Linked DNA regions of Homo sapiens: region 2 is linked to region 1. Evidence: fine-mapped expression QTL. A gene starts in region 1. The other region holds a variant in brackets. All regions are shown on one strand. Distances are between the middles of the regions.

Region 1 (4,000 bases):
CCAGGCTGGAGTGCAGTGGCCCAATCTTGGCTTACTGCAACCTCTGCCTCCTGGCTTCAAGCAATTCTCCAATTCTCCTGCCCCAGGCTCCTGAGTAGCTGGGATTACAGGCGTGTGCCACCATGCCCAGCTAATTTTTTATGTTTCTAGTAAAGACGGGGTTTCACCATGTTGGTCAGGCTGGTCTCAAACTCCTGACCTCAGGTGATCCACCCACCTTGGCCTCTCAAAGTGCTAGGATTGCACAGGCATGAGCCACCGCACCTGGCCCCCCAAAGTGGGGGGAGATCAGAGAGGCTGGAGCGACCAGGGGGTGGCAGGGAGGGTGGGGCAGAGACAGGGAGGTCCAAAATTATCATCTTGCCCTCTTTACAAACACTTGGGGAAAATAATGCAACATCAAAATGCAAGGAAAAAAATACTTGAGCACTTTGGTATGCGTTTTGCTGTATATGTATTACATCGTGATTTTAAAAAGAGGGGAAAAAAAAAAAATATATATATATATATAGACCTCTACTGATCCTTTAGCCAAGGAATACCAAAACTGAGAAGACAGGCTTTTTTCCCTAATCATTTAGAACATTGTTCACGTAAAGCCAATAGCTTTGGGAAATCTCTCAGTGGGTTTCTTGTCAAACCACCTGGATTCCATTATCTTGCTAACTGCCACATCCACCTCCTACGTGTTATTTATTTACACCTCGACTCCCTTCAAAAAGGCTCTGAACCTAGTACTCTATTATATAAAGACAACAAGAGTGACCCTGTTTGCTTCCAGGAAGCTGTGACATCTGGGGAGGGAAGGAGCGAGGGAGGTAGAGCTAGGATTGTGTATACATTTCGTTCCCCCTTCCCTTTAAAAACGATTTTTAAACGTTTTGGTCCAGACTTTCAGCAAACACAATGAGGAAGCTGGAAGCCTCAGGCGAGCCTGCCCTGGGGACCCCTGGCCACCTTTCCCTGCCCTCCGGCGCAGGCGCCTCCCACATCGGCAATACCTGGGGGAGCCGCCTGAGGATGAGGCAGACATGGCTAGGCATCAAAGCCGCAAAGGTGGGCAATTGGGTCAGCAGGCTCTGCTCAGGGGGACCCAGAGGGGCAGGCTTGTCAATGAGCCTCTCAAGGGGCCCGGCATCAAACGTCCTCTCTGAGGGGAGAAGGGTGGAAGCTTTGGGGTTGGCAGTTGGATGAAAACTTGGGAGGCGCTCCTCTACTGTCCAAGTCGCACAGCAACTGTCCTGCCAAAGTAGGGGGAAATAGTAGAGGCTGAGCGACCTGGGGGCAGAGGGGAGGAAGGGGAGGGGACGGGGCAGAACCGCGAGGGAAAGGACCACCGCGCCCGGGTCCCACGCGGAGGACTGCCGGTGGCTACCGGGGGAAACCTGAGGCGCCGGCGGACGTGCGGAGAGGGCGGGTGAGAACCGCTCGGCCCCAAGTGGGCCCCAGAGGGCCAGAACCGCGCAGGGAGCCGCGGGGATGCTGGGGCGGGGCCGGACAACTGTCTCCTAGGAGAAGGGGCGTTACGGAAGAACAGATGCCCGAGAGGACCAATAGTGTTTAAAGGAGGGAGGCGCGGAGGTTGCACGGGCCCCGGGCGCCCCGCCGCGAGGGAAAACCGAACAGAGTTCTGAGCAGGATAGACGCCGGGCTGGGAGGGGGCGGGCGGGACCCCCCCCCGCCGGGCGAGGGCCCTGGCAAGCCGGAGACGGTGCCCGGGGGACAGCGCTGCCTACGGAGGGCGTACAAGTGACTGCCATGTGGAGGCCCGAGGAGAGGACGAGGCGGTCGGGGCGATGCCGCCGACGGGCAGCAGAGCGAGGGAGAGCCTCTGTCGGCGGAGAGAAGGGACGGCCACCCACCAGCAGGCAGGAGGGTACCGGTTTCTGCCCATAGAGAGAAAGGTGAAGCCCTGCCCGCGGGCGGCAGAGGAGGGGCAGAGCCCCGTGGTAGCCAAGAGAGGAAGGAGGCGGCCGACCGCCCGTTAGCGGGAGGAGGAGAGGCCCCGCGCCGGTGGGCGGGGCGGGGGCCCAGGTTCTGACAGGAGGGGGACGAGCGCAACGCGGCGGGGAACCCAGGACCCGACGGCCCCGCGGGGTCGACCGCGCCGGGGGTGCGAAGGCGACGGTCTCGCCCGCGGTGCCCCGGAGGGCGCTGGATCCCGCCTGCCGGCGGCCTCTCACCAGGAGCGACACGGCTGCGCCCAGAAACGCCGCCTTATGAAGTCGTTGAAGTCGGAGGCCAGGGTCGTGCCATGGAGACGCCGCGGCGGATGCAGTCTGGCTCTGGCAGCGGCTCCTCCCCGCTTCCGCCTCCTTTTCCGACACCCGGTCGGCAGCTCGCCCATTGGCCAGTTCAAACCCCCCCGGGAGCCGCTTGGGTTTCGCCATCGAGGCCCAGCCCCTAGCGTCACAGAGATGCCCCGCCCCGCCAGAAGGGCCGCCCACTTCCGGGCCACGCGTCCCGTCACCAAGGAGACGTGCTACGCGTCCAGCGGGCCTGGCCGGGTCTCGCCCCCCATTCAAGGCCTTTCCCGCTCGGCCCTGTTTCCCCTGCCTTGGATCCTCCCGGATTCCCCTCACTCAAAGGAGCGTACGGTTCCGACGCCCTCCCCTCGGTACCCACCAGGAAACTAGGCTCACAGAGGACCCATGGAACTAGTTATTGGGAGCTGCACACTGCCTCCGAAAATCCAGCCCTGCCCCTAGTCCACTATTAATGCGGAGATGGAGTCGGCTTCTGCGCATTCCCCGGCCTCTCCCCTGCCCACATCGCCTCTGTCTTGGCCCCAACAGGAGAAAGGGTCGGCATTCCCCTTGCTGTTCTGTTCACTACCTTCCTGCACTTTTTTTTTTTTTTTTTTTTTTTTTTTTTTTTTTTTTTTTGAGACAGATTCTTGCTCTGTTGCCCAGGCTGGAGTGCAGTGGCGCGATCTCGGCTCACCGCAACCTCCGCCTCCCGGGTTCACGCCATTCTCCTGCCTGAGCCTCCCGAGTAACTGGGACTACTGGCGCCCGCCACAACGCCCGGCTAATTTTTTTTTGTATTTTTAGTAGAGACGGGGTTTCACCGTGTTGGGCAGGATAGTCTCCATCTCCTGACCTCATGATCCACCCGCCTCGGCCTTCCAAAGTGCTTGTATTACAGGCTTGAGCCTCCGCGCCCGGTCTACTACCCTCCTGCACTCTCTATGCCGCTCTGTGTACAGACCTATTCTGATGAGGTCCTTGCTGGTCCGCCATCTTCTCAATTATGCTTCACTGTCAGCCAGTCAGGGGAGGTCTGTCACGTGGCTCATAATGCCGCCCTGGAATCTGGGAGACCTGAACCACCTCCGGGCCAACTGGGCCACAGTCCCTTGACCTTTCTCCAGTGACCCCGCAGCACCTTAGCCACACAGCTCCAGGGTCACACAAGTGTTTCACCTGCAATCCTAAAGTCAGACTCGCAAACAAAACCTGCTTTTCCGCCTCGCTTTCACAGTATACTGCATACTGAATTTGTTCTGTAATGTCAGGGAGCTCCCCAATCCCTTGATCCATTCATTGTCTCTCTGTTGAATAATTGATAGATTTCCTAATCCTCATTAACCATTTAAGACTGCGGTGGCTCACGCCTGTAGTCCCAGCACTTTGGGAGGCTGAGGCAGGCGGATCACCTAAGGTCAGAAGTTCAAGACCAGACTGCCCAACATAGCGAAACCCCGTCTCTACTAAAAATACAAAAATTAACCGGGCATGGTGGTGTGTGCCTGTAATCCCAGCTACTAGGGAGGAGGAGGCAGGGAGAATTCCTTGAACCTGGAAGGCGGAGGTTGCAGTGAGCCAAAATCACCACTACACTTCAGCCTGGGTGACAGAGTGAGACTCTTGTCTCAAAAAAAAAAAAAAAAAAAAAAAAGTATATACAGGTTCAAGGAAAAGAGGACAGGAAAAGGAGGTCCCGGTCCTCCTGGGGCAGGCAGGAGATGGTTCCCAGAGGTGATGGTATTGGAACTGAG
Region 2 (4,520 bases), 53 kb before region 1:
AAGGCTTACAGTTTTTTTTTTATGTTTAAGTCCATGATCACGTTAATTTTTTTTTTTTTTTGAGATGGAGTCTTGCTCTGTCGCCCAGGCTGGTGTGCAGTGGCGCAATCTCAGCTCACTGCAAGCTCTGCCTCCCGCGTTCACATCATTCTCCTGCCTCAGCCTCCTGAGTAGCTGGGACTACAGGTGCCCGCCAACTCGCCTAATTTTTTTTTTTATTTTTAGTAGAGAAGGGGTTTGACCGTGTTAGCCAGAATGGTCTTGATCTCCTGACCTAGTGATCCACCCGCCTTGGCCTCCCAAAGTGCTGGGATTACAGGCGTGAGCCACTGCACCCGGCCAAGTTAATTTTTATATAAGGTATGACATTTAGGTGGAGGTTCCTTTTTTTCCTTAAGACGTTCAGTTGCTAAAAATATATATTTTAAAGTACCTAGACCTTTTCTGGCAACAACAACAACAACAAAATCAACATAAATATATATATTTATGTATATTTATAATATATATATTATTTATTTTGTTGTTATTATTTACTCAGTCTCTATATATACATATATTTTGAGACTGAGTCTTGCTCCGTTACCCAGGCTAGAGTACAATGGCATGATCTCAGCTCACTGCAACCTCCGTCTCCCGGGTTCAAGCAATTCTAGTGCCTCAGCCTCCCAAGTAGATGGGATTACAGGCGTGCGCCACGACGCCCAGCTAATTTTGTATTTTTAGTAGAGACAGGGTTTCACTGTGGTCAAGCTGCTCTCGAACTACTGATCTCAAGTGATCCACCTGCCTCAGCCTCCCAAAGTGCTGGGATTACACGTGTGAGCCACCACACGTGGCCACAAAGAATATTTTTTAAAGACTAATATTTTAAAAGATGAACTACTAGATAGAAAAAAAATACTTTCTATGTAAAAAAGAAAAAAAAAAAAAAAACTGGCCAGGCACAGTGGCTCACGACTATAATCCCAGCACTTTGGGAGGCCGAGGTGGGTAGATCATCTGAGGTCAGTAGTTTGAGACCAGACTGGACAACATGGCAAAATCCTGTCTCTACTAAGAATACAAAAATTAGCCAGGCATGGTGGCGCACACCTGTAATCTCAGCTACTTGGGAGGCTGAGGCAGAAGAACCGCGTGAACCCAGGAGGCAAAGGTTGCAGTAAGCCGAGACCATGCCACTGTACTCCAGCCTGGGTGACAGAGCTAGACTCCATCTTAAAAAAAAAAAAAAAAAAAAGCCTGGGTGTGGTGGTTCACACCTGTAATCCCAGCACTTTGGGAGGCCGAGGTGGGCAGATCATAAGGTCAGGAGTTTGAGAACAGCCAGGCCAATATGGTGAAACACCATCTCCACTAAAAATACAAACATAAGCCGGGCGTGATAGTGGGTGCCTGTAATCCCAGCCGCTCAGGAGGCTGAGGTGGGAGAATCGCTTGAAGCCGGGAGGCGGAAGTTGCAGTGAGCTGAAATTGCGTCACTGCACTCCAGCCTGGGGGACAGAGCAAGACTCCGTCTCAAAAAAAAAAAAGAAAAAGAAAATAGCCAAGTATGGTGGTGTCCACACGCAGTCCCAGCTATTCGGGAGGCTGAGACAGGAGGGTGGATTGAGCCTGGGAGGTGGAGGCTGCAGTGAGCCATGTTCATGCCACTGCACTCCATCCTGGTTGACAGAGACAGACCTCAGCTCAAAAAAAAGGGAGGGTGAAGAAGAAGACATGTTCACGTATATTTGTATATACACAAACTACCTCTAGAAGTATATAAAAAGTAATTTTAAAAAACTTCCAAAATTTAACTTTTTTT[TG/G]AGATAGGGACTCACTCTGTTGCCTAGGCTGGAATGTAATGGCTTGATCACAGCTCACTGTAGTCTCAAACTCCTGGGCTCAAGTGATCCTCCCATCTCAATGTCCCAAGTAGCTAGGACAACAAGCTCGAGCCACCATGCCTAGCCAATTTTTAAGTATTTTGGAGAGACAAGGTCTCACTATGTTGCCCAGGCTGGTCTTGAACTCCTGGGCTCAAGCAATCCTCTTGTCTTGGCCTTCCAAAGCACTGGAATTATGGACATGAGCCACTGTGTTGGGTCCAATTTAACTTTTTTTTTTTTTTTTGCGTTTAGGAGTGGAGGTTTAATAGGCAAGAGAAAGAGAAAGGAAAATAGTTCTCTCTCTAGTGAGAGAGAGGGGTCTTCTGAGAGGAAATGGCCCCAGTTTAGCATTTTTAAGTGGGAGAAATAACAAAAAAACAGAGGCAGGGACAAAACAGAGCCAGGAATAGGGTAAAATCTCCTACAGAACCAATGAGAGAAGGCATGTAAACTTAAAGAGAAGGTATACATTTCACTCTAAGCCTTCTTCCAGCAGATAACACAAAAAGGGAGACCATATCAGTTAAACAGACGCAGCGTTCATCAGAAAAAAAAAAAAATCCAATTGCTCATGAAATTAGTTATACTATTCTCGGTACTAAGAATAGAGGGGATTTTTCTCCCTCTGGATCTGTCTAAAGAGAACACTGAATGGTGCTGTCAACATTGTCTCTACAACAGCTACAACAATGAGCAATCATTATTTCCCCTAGGGTATGGTCACTGTCATATGACAATATTAAACATTTTGACTTTGCAGCCACCATGTCTTTTGTCTTAAGCTGATCACAACCTTACCTTGGTTCCATTTGGTGTTGCAGGGGAGGCTGGGGAAAAGGCAGAGCTTGCGTCAGGAGATTTGGGAACAAATGAGGGTTGATCTAGGGCTGAAGCTGACGTAGAGGATGGCGAAGTCTCAGACAGAGGTTGGTTCTCCTGCATATGGGGTAGGACGTGCTCTACCACCCATCCAGAATAAGAAGATAGCTTGGGAAGAGACATACATTCTTCTAAAACATCCTAGAGAAAAGAATAGGGTTAAGCTCAACTTACACGTCAACTGTTCTCAGTATAATCCACTACATGCCTTACTGAACATCTAAGAAGGCCTAAATAAATAAACATCAAAGACCCAAAGTAATGTATTAACAATCAGATGAAAACAAAGTACAGTGGTTTCTTGATAATGACCTAGACTACTATCCTTCTAATGAAAATCAGACTAAATAACCCTAACTACAGAAAAAGGGACAATGCACAAAGATTCCCACTAAAGCATATGTGAAAGCAATCTAAAGCACTGAACAGAACACGAGGAATTCTGAAGTAAGCTACTGTATACACAATCAGTAGAATGTCAGTCACTTAACAATGGGGGTAAGTTCTGAGAAACACAGGGTTAGGTGATCTTGTCATTGTGCGAGTATCGTAAAGCATCCTTACACAAACCTAGATGTATATATTTTTTCATTTTTAAAATTAATTATTTTTGAGACAGGGTCTCACTCTGTTACCCAGGCTGGAGTGCAGTGACCTAATCATGGCTCACTGTAGCCTGACCTCCTGGGCTCAAGCTATCCTCCCACCTCAACCAGTCTCCCCAGCAGCTGGGAGTACAGGCATGCGCCACTATATTCAGCTAATTATTTTTTCATTTTTTATAGAGATGGAGTCTTGATATGTTGCCCAGGCTGGTCTTTTTTTTTTTTTTTTTTGAGATGGAGTTTCGCTCTTGTTGCCCAGGCTGGAGTGCAATGGCACGATCTTGGCTCACCACAACCTCCACCTCCCAGGTTCAAGTGATTCTCCTGCCTCAGCCTCCTGAGTAGCTGGGATTACAGGCATGCACCACCATGCCTGGCTAATTTTGTACTTTTAGTAGATACGGGGTTTTCTCCATGTTAGTCAGGCTGGTCTCGAACTCCTGACCTCAGGCGATCCACCCGCCTCAGCCTCCCAAAGTGCTGGGATTACAGGCGTGAGCCACTGTGTGCCCAGCCTTTTTTTTGAGATGGAGTCTTGCTCTGTCACCCAGGCTGGAGTGCAGTGGCACGATCTCAGCTCACTGCAACCTCCACCTCCCGGGTTCAAGCAATTCTCCTGCTTCAGCCTCCCGAGCAGCTGGGATTACAGGTGTCGACCACCACACCCGGCTAATTTTTGTATTATTACTAGAGACAGGGTTTCACCATGTTGGCCAGGCTGGTCTCAAACTCCTGACCTCAGGTGATCCACCCACCTCAGCCTCCCAAAGTGTTGGGATTACAGGCGTGAGCCACCACGCCCGACTATTTTTTTTTTTTTTTTTTTGAGAGACAGGCTCTCATTCTGTTCCCCAGGCTGGAGTGCAGTGGCGTGATCACGGCTCACTGCAGCCTCAACTTTTCATGCTCAGGTAATACTCCCACCTCAGCCTCTCAAGGAGCAGGGACTACAGGCACGCACCACCACACCTGGTTAATTTTTTTGTATTTTTTGTAGAGGTGAGGTTTCTCCACATTGCCCAGGCTGGTGTCGAACTTCTGGGCTCAAGTGATCTGCCCACCTTGACTTACCAAAGTGCTGGGATTGCAGGTGTGAGACACCAAGCCTGGCTCCCAGCTTGAACTGGCCTCAAGCACTCGTCCTGCCTCAGCCTCGCAAAGTGTT

What was found. PIP is the estimated chance that this variant, and not a neighbour inherited with it, causes the effect. A credible set is the group of variants that fine-mapping cannot tell apart.
Region 2: its variant is the best candidate, but not a certain one, in a credible set for the expression of ODF2 in cerebellar hemisphere (GTEx, PIP 0.82).

Annotation. Positions count from the first base shown.
Region 1 is chr9:128,454,439-128,458,438 of GRCh38, reverse strand. It overlaps ODF2 (outer dense fiber of sperm tails 2), which reads right to left and starts at 2,433. Exons shown (of 21, transcript NM_001351578.2): 1 at 2,184-2,433. The coding sequence starts at 2,347. RefSeq lists enhancers at 416-1,151, 1,152-1,887, 2,481-2,530, 1,888-2,623, 2,661-2,750 and 1 more and silencers at 1,281-1,330, 1,541-1,690, 1,721-1,820, 1,951-2,260.
Region 2 is chr9:128,507,247-128,511,766 of GRCh38, reverse strand. GLE1 (GLE1 RNA export mediator) reads right to left here. Exons shown (of 16, transcript NM_001003722.2): 2 at 2,670-2,891. Among named protein-coding and RNA genes, the nearest start is that of GLE1, 4.8 kb to the right of the region's middle. The variant TG/G (reference allele first, on the strand shown) is at 1,808.